Linked DNA regions of Homo sapiens: all the other regions are linked to region 4. Evidence: fine-mapped expression QTL. A gene starts in region 4. Each other region holds a variant in brackets. All regions are shown on one strand. Distances are between the middles of the regions.

Region 1 (7,126 bases), 37 kb before region 4:
AGGGAGGAAGCTGGGGGAGGAGTAAACCCTGAGAAGAGAACAGAGGGCGGAGCACAGGGCACACAGGGCACGGCCAGGTAAGCAGCGGGCAGGAAGCAGACAGTGAGGTTTTCAGGGGACTTTGGATCCACAATGGAGAGAATCTCTGCCTACTGACAAGTAGCCTTAAACCAAGGTGACTTTCTGAGAATTTTCTTAAAAACCAAAATAGAGGTTTGCATAAACAGAACTGCTGTGCTTTAATCCTGCAGCTTCAGAGTGTGTGGTATGTGTGTGTGCAGTGTGTGCGCACATGTGTCTGCATGTTTGTGTGTGCCCTCACACACCTACCCACCCTGGACAGACCACAGCCACCCAGACCCACCCCAGATCTGCACCAGGACGACAAGGAAAGAGGAGGTCACTCTGCCTGGGACTGCTCTTCCTTCACCCCTCCTCCTTCAGGCTTCCAGAAGGTTCCTAAGCGCCGCCCCCATGTAAAGCAGGGGAGAGCCCTTAATGCTCCCAGGACCTTCAGCTTCCACTTCCTGGGTCACAGCCTGGATGTTCCTTCACTGCCCATTCCCCACCCATTCCCAAGGCAGAGACTGTGCGAGATGGGGCTCCCTGCGTTCTTACAGCTGACCCGGGCTGGGCACACCTGCCACCAAGGGGCTTTGGTAAAAGATGAGGACCAGATCCTGGAGTGGGGCTGGCGGGAGTGAGAGGATGGGAAACAGAACACAGGGAGCAGGGCCACGGGGACAGCCTCAGGCCACCTTAGCCACCGGGGGAGAAGCAGCGTCCCGTGGCGGGGATGGCACTGTGGCCAAATGCCTGGGGACCGCACCTGTCCCTGGGATCTCCCAGCGTGGCAGGTCAGGTCTCTGTTGCAACTCTACATAATTAAATGTAATTTAAGCTTTGAGCTTCTGTGGATTTTCCCAGAAGGTTCAGCATCAGGTAAAGCGCCTGCCGAGGCCCATGCACCCATTTCTGGTCTGGGAGGTTCTGCCAGGGCGGAATAGGAAAGTGAGGCCTCTCCCTCCCCCACACCAGCTGGATGCCCCCACATGAGCCCCCACATGAGCCCCCCAGGGCACTCCACAAGGTCATGCTGACCTGCAGGAGGCGGGCAAGGAAGAAGTGGGAGTCAGCCCAGCGGATCCCCCGTCTTCCCACACACTAAACCTGAGGGTGCTGAAGGGAGCCGCTTCCTCAGGGCCAGCTAAGCAGCGACACTTGGAGTCCTGACAATGACACACGGCCCCCGGAGCGCTCATAGCAGGCAGTGCTCAGCTGGGGTGTCCCAGAGATGCCGTGTGCCTCCCTAACTGGTGACAGCCATCCATGCAGGTCATGGGGGCCACAGACAAAGGTGTGGCCAATGGTGGTGGGAGGCTGAGGTGGGAGACCTGGAGGGAGGCTAAGTGGAGGCTGGAGGGAGGCTGAGTGGAACCTGAGTGGGGAGGCTGAGGGAGTGGAGTCTGAGGACGGAGGCTGAAGATGATGCTGGGGGGAGGCTGGGCAGAAACTGAGGGTGGAGACTGAGGGGGGAGGCTGAGGGAGTGGAGGCTGAGAGGGAGGCCGAAGCAGGAGGCTGCTGGAGTGGAGGCTGAGAGGGAGGCCGAAGCAGGAGGTTGCTGGAGTGGAGGCTGAGCGGGAGGCCTGGGAGCCAGAGGTGAGTGGCCTGAGCTCCCTGGCCTCATGTACCAGGCACCAGTTTGAACTTGTGCAGAGGGACACGGAGCCTCGTGGTGTTAGCGAGACAGGAGGGCACTGGCTTTGTAACTTGCGCTGGGGTCCTGAATGACCTGCTTCCTGCTGGCGGCACTGTGAGGCGCAGGGCAGGGTGAGGGAGGAGACTGTGAGCACTCAGGGTCCCACATGGGACCCACAAACAAGAGCAAAGATGTCAGGTGCAGACATGCCTCTCTAGGAGCCAGGGCGGCACTGGCGCCCAGGACATGATACTGCTAGGATGGGGGCAGGGGGGCGGGGGCCACAGCGTGGCTGGGGCAGACAGGGGGCATGGGAACACGCACAGGCAGCACTGGGAAGGCAGGTCCTGGGAAGATCCTAAGAGGCCGGGCTGGCCCCCGGGGTGGGGCACTGGGTGGATGTACAGAATGGGGTCACCAGCAGGCCGGGATCAGAGCCATGAGGTGGCTCTGGGGCTCTGCAGGCCCCATGCCAAGCCTCTCTTCAGTTGGCCTGGCCCCAGGCCTGGGGGCTGGCAGGAGCACCTGTGCACCCTTTTCCAGACCGCCAGAGGCACAGGAAGATGACACATTCCCAAGACCACAGCTCATGCAGGCACAGGCAGGACCTATACCTGGGCAGTCAGAGCCGGGCCCACCCTCACACTCAGGCCTCTCCAGGGCCAAGAATGATGCTGCCAAGACGCTATGGGTGCAGCAGAGGACGGCGGGGCGGGTGGGGTGGGGGGTTGGGGCAGCCGCACACAGGCCAGGGCCCCGAGGAAGGCGCGGTACCTGGCCTTCAGCACCTCCTGCACCTTCTGCTCCAGCTCCATCCGCCGCTGCCGCTCGCGGTCCAGCTCCTGCCGCAGCATCTCCGCGTTGGTTTCTTCTCGCAGCTTCCGGAGCTCCTCCTCTATGGGGGAGAGAACGGCCAGGTGACCATCGCTCATGTCCACGCGACCCCGACTCTGGGATGCTGGGGCAGGGGTGCCTGACTCAGAAACAGCAGAGGGGTCTCTGCTCCGTAAGCGGACCTGAGCACCTGACCTTCCTCCAGGGTGCGGGGCGCTCACAGCAGGACATGAACTGGTCCCCATCCAGCCCTTCCTCCTGGGCAGGAGCTAGTAACGGGGCTCCTCTTACATGACTGGGGCAAGAGGTGGGTGAAGCAAGGGTGTGAATTTCCTCACTATGCTTCATAACAGTGCAACACAGAACACAAAAGCCATTTCACCAAGCACCGCCACGCTGAGGACACCTGCGGAAAGGACGCTGACCACACCTGGCCAGCCCACCACACCCACCCAGCGCCTCCATGTGCTGGGTGAGGTTCTGGGACGCGTCGGCAGCAGAGCAAAGGCCCTGGGCCAGCGGGGACAGCCCACAGCTCAAGCTGGCCAGGGGGCCTGAGAAGAGCACGGGGCAGGCTGGACACAGGGCTGCTCTGGGAAAGCCTCGGGAGAAGGTGAGTTCTGAGTCAAGGCCTGGAGGGAACACAGCGAGGCCACAGACCCTGGGAAAGAGCATCCAGGCAGAGGGAGGAGGCAGGGTCAGAGGTCAGAGGTCGGAGAGACTGGAAGACTGAGGATGGAAGGGGCCAGGAGCCAGGGAGTGCAGGCAGCCTCTGGCAGTCAGGACACTTCTACCACTTAAAGACAGGAGAGACGGGGACCCGGCCTCTCTCCCGCTTCCTCTGCCCCATCCCTGCCTCTTCCTCCTAAAACCAACACCGCTGGGTCACCTAAGGGCAAGCCTGAGGCCCTTGCTTCTCCCCCACTGCCCTCCCAGGGCCTGGCACAGGCTCCACGCATGAAGAACAAGAGCAACAGAC[C/T]GATGAGAGCAGAGAGCTGGCACCTGTGAACGCCCACAGGTCCTCGGTCCTTCTCAGAGGCCTGGGCCACTGACAAGACCCTGCCCAGGCGCTCCCCACCCCAGCCCATCCACCCTCCTCTGTGTGGTGTCCCCTGCCCAGCCCAACCCTGTCTCCTTGACAGGCTCAGGCAGGTGGCCCCAGGGCCAAGGTCACGGTTAAGTTCAGGTGGAACAATGCTGGTTTACGGGGCAGCAGTGGCTTGCAGAACCCAGCTGAGGGTCACCTAAGTGCTGTCTCTCCCCAGAAGGCTGCCTGGCTGTGGCCTATGGTGGCTGAGGGCTGGCTGTGGCCCATGGTGGCTGAGGGCTGGCTGTGGCCTATGGTGGCTGAGGGTCCAGATCAGTCAGCCTCGACTTCAACTGCACAGACCACACTGACCATGGGGCGGACACGCTGAGACCTTATAAAATGGCAATGGCAGCAGGAGAAGAGCGTTTGCTGGAGTCCCAGGAGATATTCCTGAGACAAAGGAACGTGGCTGATGAATTCACCCAGGTTCTTGGGCAGGGCCAGCAGCCAGACCCCACCAGCGTGAGGCAGGAACCCTTGGGGGTCTGGCCAGCAGCCCAAGGCTGAAGGCAGGCTTCTAAGCCTGGAAGTTTCTTTCTGGGTAGGGTGGGAGTGACCCCAGTAGCTTCCTTTCCTGTCCTGGACACCTCACCACATGACTTGGGGCCACAGGGCCATACCTAAGACTCCAAAACTGGGGCCAAGGGCAGTATGACAGCCTCAGGCCCCAGTCCCAGCCAATGTCCAGGAGTAGCCGTACAGAAACAGCAGGGGGCCGTGCCCAGGCAGGGAGCAGCCGCGGGTGGACTAGGGTCAGTAAACCCAGAAGCCAAAGGTCAGCACACCTTCCTGCCCGGCAGCCACAGGCTCACGGTACCCAAAAGGGAAGAGACAGGCACCTGCATCTCACCAGCCCCACTCCCACTGGGGGTGCTGGATGCTGTTACTCGCTGTTACTAACCAGAGAGAAAATATTCGAATTTACCAAGGGCCAGGATCCACTTGCCCAGTGTGGGTGCTGGAGCTCTGCCCTGCTCCCCGGCCCGCTGGGATCGGCCCTTCTCCAAGCATGGTTTCAGTGTCCTTCAGCATCCTGGACTCCCGAGAGCCCCCCAGGGCAGCTGAGCTGGCCTGGAGAAGACCCTCCCCGTGGAGGCTGGGGTGGGGGGCACTGGGCCTGTCCCTGCGGGCTGCCCAGTCTCATCAGGCTGGTTCCCTCCAGAGCTCCCCCTCCCCGCCCCGCCTCCGTTCTGGGGAGAAGCGTCTGGCCCTGGCACGGCTACTTTTCTCCGCGGACGGAGGTCCCCGACCCGCTGACATGGCCAGGCAGAGCGTTAGCTGAAGCCGGTGCCTCCCCAGGGCTCAGGACAGGCTGCAAGGTACCAAGTGCTCAGTCCCGGAGCTGAGCAAAGGCGGGGTCAGAAGGGAGGCAGGTGGCCTCTGCCTAGGGCCTTGGGGAGGCTTCTGGGTCAGAATTAGGGGCAGGGTCCAGCCCGGCCTGGGGCTCCAGTTCAGAGCAGCAGGAAGGAGGTGGCAGGAGCTGCAGGGCCCCTGACCCAGGGCTGTGGGGGACACGTCTCCAGGGCTGAGGGAGCTACCCCCCAGCCCTCTCTGGGCGGCCGGCTGGCTCCTTTACAGCAGAGGGGAGCAGTGCCAGCCACATTTGGGCGGGGGCCCTTCACCCCCTACACATCTGGGGTTCTTTCTTCCAAGATCCCAGATCCATCCACTCTGCTGGTCTCTCAGCTGCCCCAGCCCCATCCCCATGTTCTTAACCGGCCTCCCAGCTCCTGGCACACCCTCCCGTCCGGCTCCAAGCTGAGGTCCAAGGCTGCTTGTAAAGCACAAGCCAGAACTTGTTGCTTTCCCGCTTAGAACTCCTCACCGGGCTGGCAATGAATCCAACTTCCCAGCTTGAAGCTCCCTCCCGAGGCCCCCACCCACCCACTCCCAGCCTCAGCACCCTCCACACCACCCCTCATCTTTGCTTTTTGGGCTTAAGCCACAGAGACCTGCTTTTAGGTCCTCAAATGTCCAGAAAATATTCAGATTTGCCGAGGGTCGGGCCTGCCCCAGGACTTTTGCATGTGCTGGCCCTGCTCCCGAGGAAGCTTCTCTTCCACCCTCCAGGGTAAGCTGTCCCTCAGCCTCAGTCCTGACCCCAATACCACTTCCCCGAGTGACTTCCCCAACAGCCCCCCCATCTGGCGTAGCCTTCTGTCATCTTCTCTCACGGGTCCTGCTCTTTCCTCTTGGGGACATGATTCCCACTCCGTGTGCTGGGTGGGGATTCCCAGAAATGGCACACAACCTCCTGGTACAGTGTGACGTTTCCAAGCCTCCATTACCTGCAGGCCTCCCTGACTTGTGCCCAACACACCCCACAGGTTCCGGAGGAGGGACCACCCCGGTGTCACCATCTGTTCTGGCCCCAAGACCCAGCCTGGCCCAAGGAGAAACCAGCAAGATGTGGGGAAGGGAGAGTGGTTGGGAGGGGAGCTTGGCCAGTTCTCACGTAGTGCGTCTAGCAGGGAGGGCAGATGTGCTGACCAGCGGGCCGTGCACGGAGTGGAGGCAGGCGGGGACTTGGGAATTCGGTGTCACAGCCCTAACACGGGGATCAGTCCACAAACCCCACCCCCTGCAGGGACCTCCACCCAGCCCCTTGCCAACCTTGCATGTGGCACGAGCCCCCAGCCCCCCGCCCTCGTGGAGCCACTTGAGGGCCGGCTCTGGCACACCTTCGTCAGAAATACTCAGGTAATCATCACACGCCGGGCTCTGCCAAGGCGCCGGGACACCACCATGAACAGAGGGGACAACACCCTGCCCTGAGAGGGTGCCTGGGTGGGTCCCCAAGAGCAGCATGGAGCATGTGAACCCACTGCGTGAGCCCGGGCTGGCCCTGAAGCCCTTGGTGGGCGGGTCCATGCCCCAAGGCAGGAGGAGCCTGGGGACCCTTCCTCCGAGGGGTCACACGCCCACTGACAGCCAGGAGAGCCTGGGCATCTTGGCCCACCTGAGATGGATGCTGCCCTCCCACCCTACCCCCCAGCCACCTCCAACAGACCCGATTCTCAGCCTCCTGGCCCCTCTTTCGGTGTGGCTGGCATACAGAAGGGGCTTAATCAAGGCTCACTGGATAAGCGAAGGAAGGAACCAAATGCCCCGTCAGCCGGTGTTTCTCCCCAAAGGGAGCGTCCGCCTGGCTCAGTCCCAAATTCGGAGCCAGCTGGGGAGGGTTCAGAGAGAGCCACGGGGTGTTTCCATCTCATGCCTCTGTCTTCATGTTGTGGCAGTGACTCTATCACGTGGGAACACAGAGGTGAGACAAGTCACACTGGGCAGGCTTGCTCCCGGCAGGCCTCTTGGGCGGAGTAGGCCAAGGCGGGAAGGCTCAGGTACTTTCCCAGGTTAACTCCTAGTACCCACACATCACCTCCTCTGATCTTGGCCCTGTCAAGGTCAAGGCAGCCCACATGCCTCTCCATCCATAGGTCAGAGAGGCACTTTGGCCCCTCCCTGCACGGGTAACAGGAAACCACATTTTCCTAAATGGGGC
Region 2 (7,126 bases), 56 kb before region 4:
CTGGTAAAGCCCCATCTGCCCCAGGGACCCCTCCCGCTGTGTTTGGGGACTGAATCCCAGCACCTAGGAAGAGGCGCTCATTGGCCCCGAGGCCCCGGACCCATCCTTGGGCACTGCCGGGCCCTGGGGAGAGAGGTGTGGCCATTGTCTGCGGGCACTGCCTCTGCAGCCGCCCCTGGGGGTGGGTCAGTGCCCACCCTGTGTTGCCTCAGGCGCCAAGGTGGGGTTCACTGGGATATGTCCCCCTCCCCTGGTGCACCAAGAGAGCCAGTCCCCTACAGGAGCCAGACCCACGGCTCAGAGCGGGTTCTGTCCCCATTCGGGAAAGGCCGCCGTGTGGTCATCCTGACGCCAACGTCCGCGCAGTCCAGAGCCACGGGGGCTCCGCTCCACCGCCTGGGATAGGACATGTGCTTAATCTGGTGATCGGCGCAGCTCCCCCCAAAGCACCCCCGGCACCAGCGTGTGACTCTGCGGCCCCTCGTGAAGGGGGTGAAACCAGCCCATGCCGCCGGATCCCTCACCCACACCAGCAAATGAGGATCGGAGCAAAGATAAAAATTACATCTGAAAAAGGATACAAAAATAAGAAAACCAGCTTGCTCGCTGTAAAAAATAGAATCTTCTGTTTCTTCAAAAAACAACAATCTCAACGACACCCAAGGGACTCAGGACAAGCTGAGGGAGCTGCGGGATCCGCCCCAGCAGACACGCAGGCCCGCGGGGTGGCCACCTCCTTCCAGGAGGCCCAAGCCGCCTTTCCCTCCCTTCAGCCCAGCGCAGGCGGCCCCAGCAGACCAGGCCTGCGGGCGCTCCCTCCACAAATGCCACCTTGTTCCCGGGAAGCCCAGGCTTCCCTGGGGCAGGGCGGGGGCTGGGGGGGTCTGTGCCCGGACCGGCACCGGCTAGGCACGCGGGGGAGGGAACGCTGTCGCATGTCGGCTGCAGGCAGTGCAGGCCCAGGCCTCTGGGCTCGGCTCACGGTTGCTCCCTAAAGCACAGGGGCTGCCAGAGCCTCTCGGATGGCCCAAAGGCGGCTGCAGCCTGGGCCACCATGGTCCCGGAACACTCCTCCCCACTTCCTCCCCCAACCAACCCAGGCAACCGCAGCCTGGGGGCCATGTGCCAGACATGCCACAGTGCTCGGAGCACCTCCAACAGCCTTCGCGGATGTTCTCCTGGGCCTTCCAAAGAGCAAAGTGTGAGAAAGATGTGCTTTTACCTGCACCATCCTGTGCCCTTACTGGTCCCCAGCTACAGACCTCCTGGCCGGCGTGTCAGGCCGAGAGCAGCAGGCAGGCCCTTACAGACGCGGTGCTGAGCGCCCTGGAGGCCAGCAAGGAAGGTGCCACCAAAGACACTGAGGGCAGGCGAGGGGTGGGCCCTTCTCACCCTCTCTGTTCCCGTGGAGCGAGTGTGGAGCGCAGGCAGGGTCACTGCGCCCGGCCCCAGCCCGGCACCAAGGGCAAATGCCACAGGAGGGTCTCATGTAAGAGGAAGGAGGGCCGCCAGGCCCGTTTCTCGGTGGTTGGTGAAAGGCCCCCATGTCCCTCCTTGACGACATCTTTCTGTCCCCAGGAGGAAGGGCCCCGCACTCTTCAGCTATGGCTTTGGTGGTGGACGAGCTTCTGGCCTCTGGAGAGCGGGACACAAGGTTGCGAGAACCTCTTGGGGTGGCTGGAGAGGTTTCTCTGTCCAGGCTGGAACGGAGAAGGGCAGGGCCAGGGGTCCTGTGTGTCTTCTCCACGGGCCCCCGAGGGCCTCTGCCCCCTCCCCCAGTCTGCGGGTGGCCCTCAGAGGCACCTGACGTGCCCTGTGGGAGAGGGGCACCCCCGTCCCTGTGAGCCCTGGCCCCTTCTTGGTCGATAAAACGCAGAGGTCAACACAATAGAACCACAGGTCCAGGAGAATTATTGCAAAAGCTCATGAGGATGTCCAATTGTTTCCACTACCAAATCGTAAAAAAAAAAAAAGAAAAAGAAAAAGAAAAAGAAAATTCCAGCAACGTCCTGGGCAAGTCAATACTAGCTGTCCCCGCCAGACGCTGCCGCTGAGGTGATCTTGATGTACTGGCTGAGAATGGTCTCGAAGGCCTCATCCCTGTGCACCATGGCACCAAACACGAGCGGCTGGCAGGGAAGAAATGCCACCAGTGAGCATGGCACAGCCAGGCTGGCGCCAGGACCAGGACCGAGACGAAGTCCAACACCAGCCCCAGGCCAGCACGCTAGTCACGTGGGTCTGGGTGCAAAAGACAGGTGTCTCCCCACCACCCGGAGCCAGGCTCCAGCCTTCAGGGGAACAGAGCCAAGAGGCAGAGGGGAGCCAGGCTTTAGCCCCGTGCCTCCCTCCTCCCAAGTCACTGAGTCAGGGGACCCCTGTGCCCAACATCCCTGTCTGTCCGGTGACTCGATGGCCCCAGCAAGATTTCCAACCCAACCTGGACGCAGCCCCAGGCTCTAGCTGCTGCGAGGGAGGGGGCGGCTTTGTGACCCTGCTGCCCAAACTAAAACTCTGGCTGTCTGCCCCACGCTGGTCCCAGGGTTGCTCAGAGTCAGGCCCCTGGGCCCACACCAACCCCTTGGCGGCCCCCCGCCCGGCACCTACTTTCTGGGTGGATGGCGTCGACACGGCAATCCCCATGCCTGAGCCTGGGAGGACAGACAGGACCTTGTACTGAAAGGCAAAGCGTGGCCGTCACCACAGGTCTCTCCTGGGGACAGGGAGGCACAGCCCTCCACAGGCCCAGGGCATCCTCCTCCACTGGGCACACAGGCAGCAGGGCCCACGGGCACCTGGGACTTCCAAACAACAGAAGGTAAGGGCCTGTGGACACCTCCTCACTTTGTGGCCGAGACACCAGACCTGTAAAGGGTCTGTCCCACCCCAGCCCAGACCGTCGGCCAGCTGGCCTGAGGAAGGTCAGAGACAAGCCGGCCTGAGGAGGCTGACGGTAGGCACTCAGCCCCAGAACTCGCTCTCAGGGCCTGGCACCAGGAGGGCCATCTGTCAGCACCGCCAATCCCAAGAGGCAGGCGGAAAGGACCCCAGCCCTGAACTCACCCCTTCTGGTCACCTGACTGCACGCTTTTTTCCAGAGCCGGGTGGGAGAGATGACCCACAACTGCCGTGGGGCCGGGAGTGCCCGCCGTGCCAATGCGGACATGCCCAGGACGCTCGGAGCTGGGAGGGAGCTGGGGGCCCTGACCACTCGGGCCAAGTGTGCCTGCCAGTGCCTCACTGAGCCTTCCCTGCCCCAGAAAACAAGGGACCACAGGCACTTGTGGCCACGCCCACCTGCTCATTCCATGC[T/G]ACGGTAAAATGCTGAGAAAATGCCCAGAGCGGGCGCGACCATCTGAGCTCCCACCTGAAAACCTGCATCCGAGGCAGGGGCTCAGGGCCCCTGTGCTTTTCTTTATGGGGAGGGTCCCAGATACGAGGGGAACACAGCAGCCAGAGTGGGGCTTGGGTCCTGACCTCCTGGGCTCCAACCCAGCCCCTCCACTTTGAGACACACGGTCCAGGCAAGTGGACCCCAGGGCAGGGGCAGACCCACAGGGACATGGGGACTCAAGTCAAGGAAACGGACCATGGCCGGCCAGCGTGGCCGCGGCGCCCAGATGCTGACAGAGGCTGGCAGAAGTCTATAGGGAAAGCCTCGCCAGCCTCTGTCAGGTGACGAAGAAAACACGGGGGTTAGTGGGGGTGGGTAGGTGCACCAACCTTCTGGATGTCCGTGATGTCCACTAGCTTGATGACTTTGTTCCTCTTTGAGGACCCAGATTTGGAGCTTTCGAAGCACAAGTAACTGGAAGGGGAACGGACAGAGGCGTCGCCTGGCTCTTGAACCAGAGCACGCTCCCACCAGGTGGGGGTCTCCCGGGGCTGCCTCTCAGCCCCCAGTGGGATGGACAGTGGTGCTCCCTTCCCAGCAGACACAGAACCGGTGAAACACTCACGGCCACTGCTCTATATGAGACACTCACGGCCACTGCTCTGTGTGAAACACTCACAGCCACTGCTCTGAGACACTCACGGCCACTGCTCTGAGTGAGACACGGCCACTGCTCTGAGACACTCACGGCCACTGCTCTGAGTGAGACACTCACGGCCACTGCTCTGCATAAGACATTCACAGCCACTGCTCTGAGTGAGACACTCACGGCCACTGCTCTGCATGAGGCACTCAGGGCAACAAGGACTCAGGGCCTCAGCAATAGCAGGTCCCCACACGGTCCCCTCCTTGGGAGACTCTGCCCCTCGTCTCCATGAACTGCTTGGGCCCCAGAGAAGACAGCATCCCCGCCAGCCTGAGGGATGGCAGCAGTACAGCCCAGGCCACGTCCGGCTTGGAGACAACACCTTTTCCCTGGGAGCCCAGACAGCCGGCAAGAGCAGAGCATGGGAGAGGCCATGGCCACCACTCAGGAAAACCTGCACTGGGCCAGCCACGCCATCCCAGGGCCTAGGCAGCCTCCTGCGCCCCCTCCCCTGCAGCCACACAGGGCCCCACGGCTGCACTCACTTCTCCGTGACGTAGAGCACCCCGTTCCTGATGTAGTCCGTGGGCATCTTCCGGTCCCTGTTGATGAGGCAGCAGCGCCAGCCATTCTCGCACACTAATGGGAGAAGGCCCGCCTGTCACACTTTCCACTGGAAGTACCCAGCCTCTGACCTGACGCTGGGACCCAGGAGCCTGACTCTCAGATCCTGACATCCGCCCACCGCGCTCACGTCACACCCACAGTGAGAGGAAGGCGCGCCGGCAAGAGTGAGGTGGCCCCAGAGGGTGGAAAACAGATGTTTCCTCTTCAACAGGCACTGGCAGGGTTTTTAAAGTAAAAGCACCCAGGCAGAGCAGGGAGCAACAGAAGTCACAGTGTGGCCGGGACACCACCTCCAAGACCGGCAGGGTCAGGGCGCTGGGACACCACCTCCACCAAGACCGGCAGGGCCAGGGCTCAGCAGAGGACGAAGCTCCGTTCTCCGCAGCTGCCTCTGCAGCCGCTCATCACACACCTCGAGCTGCCCGGTTTAGTTTAACAGGCCCTCCCTTTGGGAAAGCTGACCTGTCCCCAGGATCCTGAGTCACCTGTCCCCTGGTGGCTCTTGTTTCTCCAGACACGATGGAACCAGGGGCAGACCCCCTGCCAGCGCCCTGCAGGCCCTGAGGCCTCGCCCTGGACTCTCTCCCCAGTGTGTTGCCTGCACGCCTGCTGTCAGGGGAGTGCTGCAGCGTGGGCGGCTCTCCCCACGGGCACGCCCTCCTCCCCTGTAGCCCGCAGAGTCCTCATGACCCCTGGCTCCTGCACTCCTCCTGGGGCAGTGGGATGTGAATGCCATCCTGAGGGCTCCTCTGGCCTGTCACAGGGCGACCCCGTCCTGCATCCACAGCGCCCCCCTCACGGGCCTTCAGTCTGTGTCGGCGCTCGGCCTGGCCTCAGACTCACGGCACACATACCCGCCAGCGGACGCTCGTTTTCTGTCAGATTGAAGATCTCGTGGAAATTGCCCTTCTTGGTGCTGTGGAAGCGACCGGCGTCCTCCTCTTTACCCAGGCCGGCCGGTGCGCTGGGTACGTAGCTCCGTGACGAGGTCGTCTGCAGCTGCCAACGGCAAACAGCGTCGAGGTCAGGCCCGCTGCCCACGCCTGCAGCACCCAGATGTGCTGGCCGCACACACACCTCCCCAAAAGCTGGGATCCAAATTTGGGAAGACGTTCCCGAGGTCCCTTCCGGCCCAGAGCGGCTCCTTCTTCCAGGCAGGGCCACCTCACCTCAGTGGGGAGAGCCCAGCAACCCTCCTGACTCATCTGAGCCACCCCGAAGGGAGCACCGAGGCCTGCTCATTCCCCGTGGTCCTGGCTGGGATGCTGTGCTGCACATCTGGAGGGCCTGTGACTGTGAATGAAATATGGCCCAGTGCCAGGCTGTGGCTCCAAGGGGGCCCTTCTCAAACTGCCTGGTCTCAGCGCCAGAGCCTCACTGTCAGGGATGGCAGGGGCCGGGCACCCCCATGGAGTGGTCACTCCCAGGCCTGCTGGCTCTCAGTCATCATGGCCAGTCCCCAGGTGTTGCCCTGGGCTTGGGAGGGGCTGGATGAGCCTCAGAAACCGCAGTGGTAACAGGGAAAAAAAAAACCCTCAAGTTTAAGGAGTCTATAAAATTGAAGAAACAGCCTCTAAATGAGCCGGAGGTGAACAGAGCACTGTGGGCCTGGGGATGCCCGGCTTCGTGGCCCCCCATCCCCCCATCCCCGCAGCTGGGGGCCGGGCTCACCCTGCGTGAGACTGCGGCGCTGGAGCGCTCCTTGAGCTGCGGGTCGGTGGGGAGACTCCTCCAGATGATATAGGGCGTGTCGTACTTGGCGCGCAGCCTCGGGCAGCGTTTAAAGATGAAATCAATGAGGAAGAACTTGATACCAGCATAGAGTCCTGAGGGCAGGGGACACAGCCTGCTCCATCTAGAGCTCTGCAGCTATGCCAGTCTACTCAGGGTGATGGTTCCGGCACCTCCCACCTCCCAGATTGGCACCCTCCACCCTGAGCCTGGATGTGAGAGTCCAGCTGCTCGCTCAGTCCTCACCCTGGATACCCCCAGCCTCGCTCCCCTGGGGCCCATTCGTGCTGCACAGTCTCAACCCCAGGCGAGGGCCCCACTGCCAGCGCCCCACCCACTCCCACTAAGACCCCTCAGCTCTGCTAGGACCCCCCCATCCAATGCCCCTCACTTCTCTCTCCAACTCCGCCTGGCTCAGGGCTGTTCTTGACCCACCTGAAACACTTCAGGACTGTGCCTCCTCTGCCCCAATTCCCCACACCTGACACCAAATCTGAGGTCCCTCCATGGCAATCCCTCCCCAAACCCCCTCCCACCTGCCCTTCTTCAACTGGGTGCCCCCCCACGCCCAGCCCATCCCTGCTGAGAGGCCGCCCATGACCAGCTGCTCAGACGGCTCCCAGCCACGCCCTCGCAAGTTCCCCTCCACCAGCTCCGTTTTCTCCCCGATACTGTCACCTGACACAATCATGGTCAGTCCCCCTACTAAACACGACCTCAGAAGAGCCAGGCCTGACTGCGCCCCAGGACCCCACCTGGCAACAGATGCAGGGATGGGAGGCGGGGCC
Region 3 (7,126 bases), 40 kb after region 4:
AATACATCCAAATTCCAACAGAGGAATTCCAATTGTTCAAACAGACAAATTCCAATGGATGGAGATCCCACAATACACCTACTATTTCTTAAGACTGTCAGAGTTATCAAAACTAAGAAAAGTCTGAGAAGCTGTCATAGCAAAGAGGAGCTTAGAGAGACATGACAGCTAGATGTCATCTGGGACCCTAGATGCAGTCTTGGAACAGAAAAAGGACATTAGGTAAAACCTAATGAATCTGAACAAACTATGTACTTTGGCTAATGATAATGTATCAATATTAGTCCATGGATTGTAACAAACCTATCATACTAATGTAAGATGTTAATCACCAGACAAACTGCAACTGTTGGTAGGGATAATTGGGAAACTCTGTATTATCTCTGCAATTTCTCTATAAATCTAAAACAGTTTTTTAAAAATAGAGTTGGCTGGGTGTGGTGGCTCACACCTGTAATCCCAGCACTTTGAGAGACCGAAGCGAATGGATCACCTAAGGTCAGGAATTCGAGACCAGCCTGACCAACATGGTGAAACTCCATCTCTACTAAAAATACAAAATTAGCCAGGCATGGTGGTGCATGTCTGTCACCCCAGCTACTTGGGAGGCTGAGGTAGGAGAATCGCTTGAACCCGGGAGGCGGAGGTTGTGGTGAGCTGAGATCGCACCATTGCACTCCAGCCTGGGCAACAAGAGCGAAACTCCATCTCAAAAGACAAAAGAGAGAGAAAGGTGGTCACCACAGGCAGGGAGGAAGGGTCCAGGGAGTGCCTAAAGTGTCTAGAAGGCCCAGGTTCCTGTTTGGGTTTCGATTGTGGTGATGGCTGCACAACTTGGTGAATGTACTAGAAGTCCGTGAACTGTGCACTTTCAATGAGTGTGTTGTATGATGTGTGAATTACACCTCAATAAAGACGCTGACAAACACACCTCAGCCAGGTGGCCAAGGTCAACACCAAGAGTGAGGAACAAACAAATTCACTCCCAGCCTGGCTCCTGGCCCTACCCAACTCCACAGCCCAGCTCAGACCCGAGCCAGGGTCCCAGGATACCAGGCATAATGAGGTGCCGCTCCAGGTCGCTGGACATGAGCAGAGACCCCTAACTTCAGGAGCCCACCTTCTAGAAGGGAAGCGTGGTAAACAGTAGACAAACAAGAACCTCAGGAAGAGGAGAGCAGTGACAGCAGAGGCACAGCTGGGGCACTCATGGGAGGCCTCCCTGGAGGGGGGACGTGGAGCAGAGAGGTCCCAGGAACGGCCGGCAGGGGAACCCACCAAGAGAGGCTGAGCCGTTTCCTGGAGCCTCCTAACCGCCCGCTGCCCAGCATTCAGCTTCTCCCACTGCAGCTTCTCGGGAGTTTGGTGGCACAGAGTCCCAAGCAGAGTCTCTTGTCCCTCCTGTTCCCCAGGGACAAGTAACAATTCACCAAGCACAAAGCTTCACGGTTTCCCAGCAGCCCCACGCTCTGCCTCCTTGGACCTCACTTCACAGAGGGCAGTGACTCGGCCACTGCAAAGTGCATCCCAGAAGCCCTCACTCCTCGACCACCCATGGCCTCCACACCCAGCCCCACCCAGCCCCAGCCAAGGCCCCAGCACTGCTCCTCAGTAGACCTGCTTCCTCTAGGGAAGTGGCAGCCAGGCCTCTCCACCCACCTGGGCCTCCCTGTGGGAGGTGGTGCAGACGCGGCCATCTCAGGCCAGAGCCAGCTCTCAAGCTCTGGCTTCTATACCCTAGGCCAAGGCCTTCGTTTACAGGTGACCAAACTGAGGCCCAGAGAGGTTAGGTGTCTTGCCCAAGAACACACAGCAGCAAGATCAAGCACGCTCTCCGCCCAACCCCCGTGCATATGGGGCTTAGGTTAGAAGCACAGCCCATTGGTCCAAACCCACCTCTACCACGCAGCAACCTGTGGCTCTGTGCCAGGGCTTCCTCCTGCGTGAAATGCAGCTAACAAGAGCACCTACCTCCAGTTGGTACGAAAATAAATCATGTCTCATGCTTAGAGGGCTGTCTGGCCCTGAGCAGGACATGCTGTCCGAATCTTGCTATTTACTGCACATTTGACAGCAAAAAGAGAAGTCTCATCATGACTTTGAGTTTATTGCTGATATTTCTCTCACAAAACCCCCCTTAGAGGAGGGTTATCAGGAAGGCAGAAAGGCTGCAATGTTTATGAGCATAGCCTTGGGGGCAAAGCCACCCACGTGCAAATCCCAGCTCTGCTCGGGAACGAACTGGGGACTTAGGCAAGTGGCACTGCCTCCCGGTGCCTCAGTTTCCTCATCTGTAAAATGGGGTGAAGCTGTGTGCTCTGCAGACTTGGTTGAGACAATTCGTGTGAAACACTCAGCGCAGGCCTGCTGTGCAGAATGAGTGATTTCTATTACTATTATTAATGTTTTTGATAGGCCGGTACTTCCTGCCTTTCCTGTGTAACCACAGGGGACTTTAATCACTGGGCTTAAACATAATCACAACCCTAGGTTATAACTCAAACACCAAACAATCAGAACAGTAGCCCTGTAGACGGGACTGTCATTAGTGGCGAATTACCAGCCCAAAGTGTCCGCCCAGGCCTCTGCCACATGCCGAGATACCAAAGGCAAAACAACAGGGCTTTCTCCAATTAGGGAAACACGCATTTTCTTTTTTCTTTCTTTCTTTTTTTTTTTTTTTTTGAGATGGAGTTTCGCTCTTGTTGCCCAGGCTGGAGTGCAATGGCGCGATCTCAGCTCACCCCAACCTCTGCCTCCCGGGTTCAAGCGATTCTCCTGCCCCAGCCTCCCAAGTAGCTGGGATGACAGACATGCGCCAACACGCCCGGCTAATTTTTTGTATTTTTAGTAGACGTGGGGATTTCTCCATGTTGGTCAGGCTGGTCTTGAATTCCCGACCTCAGGTGATCTGCCCGCCTCGGCCTCCCAAAGTGTTGGGATTACAGGCGTGAGCCAGCGCGCCCGGCGAAACCCACATTTTCTTGCGCCACCTCTGTCTCTAAGAGTCTGAGTGACCTGCCTCTAAGTTCTCAAGTTAAACTATTACATATCCCCAGCAGCCAAGGGCTCCAAGCAGGTGACAGGCTGGCCTGGGCCCCACCCGCTGGGCTGGGTTAGGCCTGTGACACTCTGTTCACATAACTGTCCCCTTGGGAGATCCAGGCCTCCTCTCAGACCCCCCAGCCACACCTGACGGTGGAAGACTTGAACTTTTACTCCTTTACAAGCAGTATTTTTCAGGACCATTGCTGTGCCACCAAAAGGCAAAGAAAAGGCAGATCTAAACCCACCGTGGTGCCAAAGAGACCCCAAGCCAGCCTGTGGGATGCCCAAACCAGAGGCCTTCGAAAGCACTGTGAGTGGTCCACTTGGCCTCGGAGGCGCCCAGCAGATGACCATCTCCAAGCCAGGCAAGAGACGCTGCTTCCCAGCGAGCACCCTCTGCCTTCTGCCTGTTACTCACTAAACCCGGCCACAGCTTCTCTCCCTCAATTCACTGTCAATTTCTGTCGGAGCAGGGATGCTCTGCCACACACCCCAACACTGTCCCTGCTGCCCCGGGCTTTCTGCAGAGACAGTCTCCTTACCCCTAAAGAGGCCAGGCAGCAGCCTCTTGGGCCGCCTTGCAGGGGAGGAGGCAGGAACTCAGGCAGGGGGTGACCAGGCCACCCAGCCAGTCCCTGGTGTCTTCCCTCCCAGCCAGCACACGCCCACACCAACAGGAGCTCTGTAAATACCCAAGTCCCCACCATGGCCACTAGGCAGGAGACCCCAAACCTGACACACAGAAGCCCACATACAGGGACGCCTCCCCAGCTCCCCGAGATGGGGCAGCCTCCTAAAATGAGCCCCTGGCCGGAGCCCTGTCATGACAGGACTGGAACCCCAATGCCAAA[T/C]AAACCCCAGTAGATTCGGCTACCGGAGAGAAATACCCAAACAGAGAAACATGGGGAGATGGAAGGGGGCTTCATGTGGCCCCCAGGGAGGGGAGGGGGCACACGGATGGCACAATCACTAACACAGATCACATCATGGGACTATCGGGGCCCCAGGTTCTCCCATAACAGGAAAGTCACCAGGACCCGTCAAGTGGGGTGCTGCTGTTTCTGTAACATGTCTAACATTGCTCTGATACTCCTTCCAAAGAGAAAACAGGCTTCAGGCTGGCAGCCCTCCCTGGCAGCAGAGGCTCACTAGGCTCCAATAACACTTTCTTTTCATTGAGCCTGAACCACTATTCTATTCTATTCTACAGCAGAAATGGTGATTCAGGAAAACCGGCTCTGATTCTCCTCCCTCGTTTTCCAGTTGGTGAAGGTGAAGCCTGGGAGAGCGGAGAGCAAAGATCACCTAACGCCGGCGCCGGGCTCCACAGATAAGAGGAGGGTACTAAGGGGAAGGCCTGGAAGGCTGGTGGTTTGGAGAGAGACCACCTGGTTCTTTCCCAGTGAAGGGTCCTCCACCTCCCTCAGCAGGAGACCCAGAATAAACAGCCTCCCAGGGCTATGTGGAAACACACCACAACTTGGAGACTTTCCCGTGCTCTCCAGAGTGCAAGACAGACATCACCGGACAGGCCCCGCCTGCCCCCAGGCTGCATGGCTGGGACAGCCGCACTCCACGCATCAGCCATAGGGGCAGCTGAGAGGAAAGAGCAGCAGAGCAGAGGGCTGGTGGCTCACTGAGACCCCAGGTGCCCAATTTCCCAGGCTCCAGGACCAAGCTGCATCTCCCTGTGAGCCCAGCACGGTGAGGACTGTGGGGCTTCGAGGTCTGCCCCGGGACCACAAAGTGCTGCAGAAGGGTCCACATGGCTGCCAAGGCAGGAGCAAGGCAAGACAGGCAGGGCCCCTTTCCTGGACCAGGCAGGGGTCTTCGGAAGGGTGTGCAGCAGGAAGGAGGGGCAGGGTTACTGAGGTCACTCATCTGGGGAGTCCCAGCTAACAACAGGGGAACGTGGTTTCACCCCAGCACGGGGCAGAGGCAGCAACTGAACACACACCCTGGCCAGACTGTGCATCCCCAAATGGGCCTGGGACACAAAAGTCAGGAAGACAGACTTCAGACTTCAGGCTCAGCCACAGCGCCCGGGGCAGAGGCCATGACTGACCTCCTAAACCCATTTTGAACCCCAACCCAGGGCGAGCCCAGCCTGAGGAGGCCCACATCACCCCATTCGATCCTCTTACCTGCCCCTGCCCACTTGCTAGTGAGGAAACTGAGGCCCAGGAGGCTCACTACCTTGCCCAAGGTCACAGAGCAGGAGGGTGAGGGAGGCAAGTCCCAGACTCCTCTCTCGAGTGCTGCCCTCGACTTCTGAGGCAACAGAGCCCTGACCCTGACCTCCCTCCCAGGCCCAGCACCAGGGCAGGGCTGCACTGGGCTGGGACTCAGGCACCTCCTTTTTGGCATGTAGGAGAGACACCTCTGAATTTTCTTCCTAACCCACACAAGGCAGGCAAGAAGGGAACCCCATCCTGCAAAAGGTCTCCCCCAAACCGAATCTTTCCTACCTCAGGAGATGCAGGGTTGACAATAGCCGAAAAAGTGGACTTGGCTCTGGGGGAGTCACACTCAGGTCCCTGGCCCCGGGGCACTGCTGCACCTTCTGCCACACAGCCAACAGGGCAGGGGCACCAGCCCACCCGGCTGAGAACAAACTGGCTCTCCTCCCTCCCTTGTCCAGGACCTGGCAGGGGTGCAGGTCCTGCTCTAGACATGTGGGGCCTCGGGCCGGGGTTGCCACACTGCACCCCACGTTCTGGCAGGCGCACGGGCCTGGGCTACAGCCAAGGTGCCAGCCCGCCCCAGCAGAGCCCCATGAGCTCAACATCCCGAACAAAGGGAGAGAAGACAGGGCAGAAAGTGGGGTGCACGGAGGGGACAAGCGCCCACAACTTTTTGGAGAGGTCGTCTGTAGGGAAGCAGGGGCTGGGGCGCCCTCCTCCTCTCCCGTCCCACCCGGGAGTGGATCGGCAGGACGACATTGGCGGGCCCGGGCCGATACCGTCCCCCTCCAGTGGCCCAGCGTCGGTGACCCCCGGTCCGGCGACCCCCACCCCAGTCCGGGCCCCGCAACCCCGGGATGTCCTCGTCTCCCCCAGCCGGCGGGCAGAACCCGGACCTGCGGCCGCAGGTGCCCGCGGGGAGCAGCCGTGACGCGCGGGACCCGGGGGCGTGTGCGGGGCGCGCCCGCGCAGGGCCCTGCTCGGAGGGTCGCCGGCTCGGGCCCGGGCGGCGGCGGCGGCGGCGGGGAGAGCGCGGCCGAGTGAGCTGGGTCGCGAGCCGCCAGCCCAAAAGGGAGAGTGGTCGCGGGGCAACCAGGTCGGGGTAGGTGGGTGTCCGCGCGCGCCGCTTACCCTGAGCGGATATCGGGGCCAACTCTCATCCACCCGCCGCGGCGCCCCCCTCGCCGGCCGCCCGGCCGCGCTACGCCTGCCGCCCGCCCGGGAGCCCAGCGGCGCCGGGGAGCCGGGAGGAGGCGGCCCCGCGGGTCCCGGCCACGAGCGCGGAGGCGGCGGCGGCGCCAGGTCGCGCGCTCGCGTCCCGCTGCGCGGAGTCTGCGCGCCCCCGGCCCCGTTGCGCAGCCGCCGCCCCGCCCCGCGCCGCACCTTAAAGGGGCCGCGCCCCGCGCGCCACCCCGGCCCCGCCCCCGCCCCGCGGCCGGCTCGGGGGTCCGCGGGGGCGCGCCTGCCCTGGCGGGTCCGCGTGCGCCAGCTCGGTCACGCGGCGCGGCCTTTGTTTGGGTGGCCACGTGCGCCCCCGCCGCTCGCACCCACGCGCACGCGCGGCCGCCGCCGGCCACGGCCACGCCGTCCGCGCGCTTGCCACGGCGGACGCCACGGGCTCACCCGCGGGAGCACGCTCGCTGCTGTGGCCTCGCCCGCGCCCCGCGGGACCGCCCGCCTTTCTAGAGATGGGTCAGGGACTGGGCTGCCGGTGGAAACCCGCGTCCCGGGTGGAAATGCCTTTCCTCGACCGCCTCGCGGGGCGCCGGACGCGGCCCCACGCCGGGGCTGGACCTGCAGCCCGCGCTGTACGGGACGCAGCACGAACCCCGCTAGACTCGCGCAGTACCTGGCGCGCCCATCCCAAGGTGCCCGGGGTGCTGTCTGTCCCCAGG
Region 4 (7,126 bases):
AATCTCAGCACTTTGGGAGGCCGGGGCGGGCGGATCACGAGGTCAGGACATCGAGACCATCCTGGCTAACACGGTGAAACTGCATCTCTACTAAAAATACAAAAAAGTCAGCCAGGCAAGGTGGCGGGCACCTGTAGTCCAAGCGTCCCAGCTACTCAGGAGGCTGAGGCAGGAGAATGGCATGAACCCGGGAGGCGGAGCTTGCAATGAGCCGAGACTGCACCACTGCACTGCAGCCTGGGGGGCAGCGTGAGACTCTGTGTCAAAAAAAATAAAATAAAATAAAGAAAGGAAACTAAAGCTAACCCGGGCTGCGGAATGCGGCAGAGCAAGCACACAGACGCCCCCTCAACCGGCCACCCCACAACTCAGTACCAGGACCCTAGGACCAAGCTCAAGAAGTGGAGGCCTGGTGGGGGGAAACACGTCACACACCATCCATCAAGACCAGCAGGGCAGGGGGTCCTGGAGCACCCTGGTGGACCCACACAGGACCCCGTCCTTGTAAAGGGATGAAGGCAACTAAAACCGGGACCTTCCTGTGACTGTCGTTATGGCAAACAGGTGCGTGAAGAGACTCGGGCGCTATGGGGCCAGACGTCGGGAGTATGGGCTTACGGTGGTCGTTAACAATTCTCTCTCCAAATCTCCTAAAATGCCTCCCTATTACTTCTTTTCCCACAATATTTTTTAATTACGGTAAAACACACATAATATAAATATTACCAATTTCATCAGTTTTTTTTTTTTTTTTTTTAGAGATGGAGTCTTGCTCTGTCGCCCAGGCTGGAGTGCAGTGGCGTGATCTCGGCTCACTGCAAGATCCGCCTCCTGGGTTCACGCCATTCTCCTGCCTCAGCCTCCCGAGTAGCTGGGACTACAGGCACCCGCCACCACACCAGCTAATTTTTTGTATTTTTAGTAGAGACGGAGTTTCGCCATGTTAGCCAGGATGGTCTCAATCTCCTGACCTCGTGATCCACCCGCCTCGGCCTCCCAAAGTGCTGGGATTACAGGCGTGAGCCGCCGTGCTCAGCCCAACTTCACCAGTTTTTAGCGTGCAGCTCCGTGGCATAAATTACATCTGTGATGCTGAGCGGCTGCCTCCGGACTCGTCTTGTCTAACTGAAACTCTGCTCACTGAATAGGAACTCCCATGCCCTCCCCAAGCCCCCGGTAACCACCATTTTTACTGCTTTTTAATGTTTAAAAAGGAAGGATGAACGGGCTAGGGGAAGTGTAGCAATGTAAAACCTACTTCCTTCCATTTTCAAAAACCCGGCGAGTCCTCCTGGTTGCGGCAGCTGAGAGGGAAGCGGAGGGGATGACCCGGGCGCTGGGGCCTGCAGGCCCTGTGTAGGGCACCGAGCTGGCCTCCACCCAAGGAAAGCAGGGGACACGCTTGGACACGCACAGAACTCTTGGCTGCCTGCAGGGCTCTGGGCAGAGGACAGCCCCCTTGTCTGGGAGGCTGTAATTCCGAGGCCAGGGCTGCCTTCCCAATCACCTCAGGCAAGCAAATGAGGCAATGAGAGAGGGGACAAAGGCCCTGAGTGTCCCGCCTGTCACCATCAGAATGCAATGCGTGCCCCGCCAGTGTCCAGCTACTCCTCAGTCTGCTCTCCCAGCCACCGGCTCAGCCCCAAACCCAGGGTCATCCTGCTGGATGGTTCACAGCGGCCCTTGGGGAGGGCGTCCACACATCAGGGTCCTAGACGACCCTGCTCTCAGCCCCACTGACTCCACCACCCTCCTCACCCAACTCCCTGGGTCCATCAAAAAGACAGACTTTTCAAGCTTCGGTCAGTTAAGAATCAAACTCCATGTCACGACACATGTCACCACACACTGCCAGGGATGGACCTTCCAGCCTTCACCACCAGGGATGGGCCCGGGCTACACTTCCAGCCTGCGCCTGCACCGGGGTAGGGGTGCCCTCCGCGACACAGCGCCAGGGACGGGCCCGGGCTACGCCTCCAGCCTGTGCCTGCACCGGGGTAGGGGTGCCCTCCGCGACACACTGCCAGGGATGGGCCCGGGCTACGCCTCCAGCCTGCGCCTGCACCGGGGTAGGGGTGCCCTCCGCGACACACCGCCAGGGATGGGCCCGGGCTACGCCTCCAGCCTGCGCCTGCACCGGGGTAGGGGTGCCCTCCGCGACACACCGCCAGGGATGGGCCCGGGCTACGCCTCCAGCCTGCGCCTGCACCGGGGTAGGGGTGCCCTCCACGGCCACATGGGCAGCCCCCGCACTGCACTGAAGAGTGCTCCACTGTACACCAGGGTGACTTCATCTCAGTGACATCTGCAAAGAGCCATTTCCAAGTAAGGTCGGGTCCACAGGTACGAGGTGGACATGAATTTTGGGGGAGGACACTATTACCCAGCACACGCCCAACTTACAGATGCAGGAACCAAGGCCCGTCTACACACTGAGCATAGCTCCAGGCTGCACCTCAGGCCAGACCCGGGTCTCCCGACACCGCCCACCTGCGTCTCACCTGCACCTTCCGTCCTGCGTGCTGCAGCCGCGCATCCCCAACCAGACGGCCCCTGCCCTCCCCACTTCTAGCTGCCCATCCCCACCCCCTCCACGGTCCCTGGAGGAAGCCCAGCTCCTCAGCCTGCAGCCCAGCCGCTCTCCCCAGGACCAGCCCCTCCACCTGCACCTACAGGCCCACCCCTGGCAGCCCAGGGCCCCTGCAACTCCGAGCCATGCGGCCCTCTCAGATCGGCCTCCTCCCTCTCGGATGGGCCTCCCTCCCTCTCAGATCGGCCTCCCTTCCTCTCGTCCTGTCAGGTTCTGAGGGGCTTCCTGGGAGGCTCCTCCTCTTGCCGGCCCTCCTGACCAGGCCAGGTTCTCAGGAGGCCTCCACCCTTCCTCACTGGACCCCTGGCCCCGGGCTGCGCAGGTGCTTTACCGGTGGGGTCTGGCCTGCACCCGGCCTTGGGAGGGAGCCTGCCTTTCAAGATCAAGATGGCTCCAGAAGAGCACGTGGTAGCTGGGACCACTGCCCCAGAGAGTAGCAGCTTTTCCCAAGGCTGGGGCTTCCACTCAGATGGGCCCTACCATGTCCCCCTGCCCCCTGCCCCCTGCCCCCTACCTCCGTCTGTCTCAGATACATCCAGAAACACTCTTTCACTGTGGCTCCTTCAGGTCCTGGCCCAGAACCAGGATGTGCTACGAGGACCCAGGAACCATAGCCTCCAAGCCGCCCAACACCAGCAGGCACGGAGAGGGTGGTGTCTGCTGCCCTGGAGCCTGGAGGACTCCAGTCCTGTGCACCAGAGCAGGGCAGCAGGGCTCACCACGGCTGTCCAGGTTCTCCCAGGATCCCCCAGGCTCAGGGCGGCGCCCGGCCAGGCTCCAGGCCCTCTCTGCAAGCAGGACGGAATTGGGCCAGCCAGCCCTGGAACACAAAAGCATGCTGCTCTGGAAACCGCTGAATTGCTTCTGGACACACAAAGGCAACAGTGTCTAGGGAACCCTGGACTCAGAAACCGCAAAGGACTTTATTTCCCCTTCCCCAGCCCAAGATTTAAAAAAAAAAAAGTGGTTCCTGGTCTCTGGCGCTTGCCCTGAGCCGTGTCTCCTTCACACCATCTCCCCTGCTAAAGTTCCTCTCCGAGTTCTGGGTCCCTGGATCACAGCTGACCTCCACATCAGGGCCCGGCTGCTGGCACGCCCTTCATCCCCTTATTATCTGGCGGCTCTCCTGCTGATCCTGGGATAAACAGCATCCGCTTTCCCACAGCCGCCAGCCCTCCTAAGCAATGTCCCTGGGGGACTCGCAGATGTTGAGCGACACAGACACACCTCCCCCACCCCCACTGCAGTGGGCCCCAGCCCCCACCTGGCCCTCCTCCAAGTCTCAGTCCTCTAGGGAAGGTAGCCCCTAAACCTCACTGTCAGAAAGGCCTGGATGGAGGTTAGACCAGCAGCTGGACAGCCAACCTGGGCAGCTGAAGAGGACGTGAGGATGGGGCAGCTGGCAGACTCCAGGGCTTTGCAGAGTGAACAGGAGGACCGGGGGCGGCCAGCAAAGAAGGCCTGGTTCTACCAATACCCCATCGCCAGCCAGGCACCAGGGCTCAGGCCTGTAATCCCAGCACTTTGAGAGGCTGAGGTGGGCAATGCAGTGACACAGAAAGTGAAATAAGAACATGAGCCAGCGTGGTGGTACGTGCCTACAGTCCCAGTTGCTCAGAAGGTTGAGGCAGGAGGATCGCCTGGGAACCTGGGAGTTTGAGGCTGCGGTGAACCACGATCGTACCACTGCACTCCAGCCTGGGTGAGGGCCAGACCTTGTCTCTAAGAACAAAACAAAAACATCCACCCCAATGTCCCCATGCTTACAGCCACATACTTGCACCTCCCTAACTCCTGATGCAAAGAGGCCCAAGGACCCAGCACACACACAGCTCCCTGGGCCCTCTGGGGTCCTGAGACTGCAGATCCTGCCCTTCCAGCCCGTGCCCGACCTTGGCCACTATTGTTCCAACATCAGCCTCAAGAGGTCGGCTCACAACTGATGACATGTGTGCTGCCCCAAACTCAAGGCTTGTCCAGGAGTTTCATCCCCTCCCTGGATTCAGGCCTCAGTCCTGCCAGCTGGGCACAGTCAGGCGGCCTCAAATGCTGATGTCCGTATCCGGGTGTTTGGCTGCTCTCAACCCTGCCCCCTGACCTGGCCTCCCTGCAGGCTCCAAGCCGGACAGCTCACCAGTATCTCAACTATGCCACGCCTGGCACAGACTCGGGTCTCAAGGGGCACTCTGACTGGATGGCACCGTGTCCACCAGCTGTCTGGGTGAAACCCTCAAGAGCCCTTGATAGCCCCGTTCCTCACTCCACTGCCAACCTGCAGCGCACGCCGGCCGCACGCCTCCAGACGGGGCTGCACATCTGTCCACCTCTCCCCACGACCCCAGCCTGGTCCAGGCAGCCGCGTGCCTCCCCTCTCCCCACCACCCCAGCCTGGTCCAGGCAGCCGCGTGCCTCCCGAAGCCTTCTCCACATGGCAAGCATGGTGAGGCCTTCAAAGGCAAAATCAGCCTCTGCAGCGCCCCTGCCAAAGTTCTCCAGGGGCTTCCACGCACCCGGGTCAACACGGCTGCTCCCCCGACACCCTCATCAGCTCTGGCTCATCTAGGCTTGGCTGCAGCTCTGCCGACCCCCTTTGCAACCCTCCGACCACCGCCTCTGTCCCCACTGCAGGGCCCGACACGTTTGGCTCCGGGACGTCGCTCATTTGCCCCATTCCCTAGGCGCCGCCCGCTGTCATTCCACCATCCTGTTTGGTTTGACGTGGGGTCCTTGGATTGCCCTGATGGCTTCCTTGTTTAGCGCTTGTGCCTCCAGTCCTGCTTGGTTAGAACCCGCCTGGTGCTCCCCCGGGGCAGGGGCTGTGTCTGGCTAAGTCTCCAGGGGCTCGGCTCTGCCGGTGATGCTCAGGTGGACTCGAGCTGCAGGCACCCGAGTCTCCCTCTGCAGAGCTTGGCACGTGGTGGGCAGTGACAAACACTTGTTCAGAGAGTGAGGGAGCGACACACAAAGGCAGCCCAGATGCCACGGCTGGGGGGTCCCCGCCAGCCTGAGCCCGCAGCCACCAGCTGAGCTTTCTTTCCTCTGCCAGAGGCCTCAAGAGAAAGGGACACCCATGGACTAGGGACACCCATGGACTCTGCCTTGGGCCCTGCCAAAGCACAGCGTCCCTGAATACACAAAAACTTTTAACTACAAGCCTTCAGTGATCTGGGATGTTTCTCCAGGAAGAAACCTGAATTCCTTCCCTTGGCAAAGTATCTTCAGGCTTGAGTCATACGAGGGTCAGGCTGGAACCCCATGTGGGGAGCTGAGCCTTCTGCACTGTGACAGGGAAGCCACCCAGGGGGGCCAGGGAGCGGGCCCAGGGCTAAGCACACCCTGGGGTGCTAATGCCAGCACGGTGTATGGCCCGCTCTGGGGCCACTTGCCAGCGTGGCCCAGGAGAGACAGTCAGGAAGACTGGGAGGGCCAGGAGATGCCTACGTGAGTCTCCGCTTCTTCCTCTGTGTGCTGGGATCCTGCCCAGGCCTGGGGAGGAAGGAGCTGGTTAATGTTTAAGGACCCAACACAGAGGAACCTACACGCACAAGGGAACCTACACGCACAAGGGAACCTACACACGGGGAAACCTACACGCACAGGGGAACCTACACACAGGGGAACCTACACGTATGGGGGGAACCTACACCCAGGGGAACCTACACACAGGGGAACCTGCAAGCACAGGGGAAGCTGCACACACAGGGGAACCCGCACACATGGGAGAACCTACACACGGGGGAACCTACATGCTTAGGGGAACGTACACACAGGGGAACCTACATGCACAGCAGAACCTACACACGGGGGAACCCACAAGCACAGGGGAACCTACACACTGGGGAACTTACACATGGGGGAACCCACACGCACAGGGGAACCTACACACGGAGGAACCTACACGCACAGGGGAACCTACACACGGGGGAACCTACACACACAGGGGAACCTACACATGGGGGAACCTACACGGACAGGGGAACTTACACATGGGGGAACCCACACGCACAGGGGAACCTACACACGGGGGAACCCACACGCACAGGGGAACCTACACACGGGGGAACCCACACGCACAGGGGAACCTACACACGGGGGAACCTACACGCACAGGGGAACCTACACACGGGGGAACCTACACGCACAGGGGAACCTATACGCACAGGGGAACCTACACACGGGGGAAACTACACGCACAGGGGAACCTACACACGGGGGAACCTACACACAGGGGAACGTACACACAGGGGAACGTACACACAGGGGAACCTACACACACAGGGGAACCTACACACAGGGGAACCTGCACGCACAGGGGAAGCCACACACACAGGGGAACCTGCACACACGGGGGAACCTACACGCACGGGGGAACCTACACGCACAGGGGAACCTACACGCACAGGGGAACCTACACACAGGGGAACGTACACACAGGGGAACGTACACACAGGGGAACCTACACACACAGGGGAACCTACACACAGGGGAACCTGCACGCACAGGGGAAGCCGCACACACAGGGGAACCTGCACACAC

Alleles and levels. Positions count from the first base shown, and alleles are read on the strand shown. Sizes are in standard deviations (SD) of each study's normalised expression. Not every link is listed here.
With allele T in place of C in region 1, the expression in thyroid of the gene that starts at base 3,284 in region 4 is lower (moderate effect, 0.41 SD a copy in GTEx).
For the expression in fibroblasts of the gene that starts at base 3,284 in region 4, allele G in region 2 goes with a higher level than allele T (small effect, 0.19 SD a copy in GTEx).

Evidence for each region. PIP is the estimated chance that this variant, and not a neighbour inherited with it, causes the effect. A credible set is the group of variants that fine-mapping cannot tell apart.
Region 1: its variant is the best candidate, but not a certain one, in a credible set for the expression of GRAMD4 in thyroid (GTEx, PIP 0.90).
Region 2: its variant is the best candidate, but not a certain one, in a credible set for the expression of GRAMD4 in fibroblasts (GTEx, PIP 0.81).
Region 3: its variant is the best candidate, but not a certain one, in a credible set for the expression of GRAMD4 in whole blood (TOPMed, PIP 0.76).

Annotation. Positions count from the first base shown.
Region 1 is chr22:46,653,656-46,660,781 of GRCh38, reverse strand. It overlaps GRAMD4 (GRAM domain containing 4), which reads right to left. Exons shown (of 19, transcript NM_015124.5): 4 at 2,475-2,595. Among named protein-coding and RNA genes, the nearest start is that of GRAMD4, 37 kb to the right of the region's middle. The variant C/T (reference allele first, on the strand shown) is at 3,514.
Region 2 is chr22:46,672,150-46,679,275 of GRCh38, reverse strand. It overlaps GRAMD4 (GRAM domain containing 4), which reads right to left. Exons shown (of 19, transcript NM_015124.5): 14 at 6,279-6,433; 15 at 5,462-5,606; 16 at 4,526-4,619; 17 at 3,724-3,808; 18 at 2,608-2,676; 19 at 1-2,129. The coding sequence ends at 2,025. Among named protein-coding and RNA genes, the nearest start is that of GRAMD4, 55 kb to the right of the region's middle. RefSeq lists enhancers at 4,544-4,603, 4,644-4,793, 4,994-5,073. The variant T/G (reference allele first, on the strand shown) is at 3,313.
Region 3 is chr22:46,576,527-46,583,652 of GRCh38, reverse strand. It overlaps a transcript of GRAMD4 not described here. Among named protein-coding and RNA genes, the nearest start is that of LINC02925, 39 kb to the right of the region's middle. RefSeq lists enhancers at 1-371, 908-1,007, 1,726-1,805 and a silencer at 6,406-6,605. The variant T/C (reference allele first, on the strand shown) is at 3,900.
Region 4 is chr22:46,616,544-46,623,669 of GRCh38, reverse strand. It overlaps GRAMD4 (GRAM domain containing 4), which reads right to left and starts at 3,284. Exons shown (of 19, transcript NM_015124.5): 1 at 3,105-3,284. RefSeq lists enhancers at 1,545-2,056, 4,485-5,252.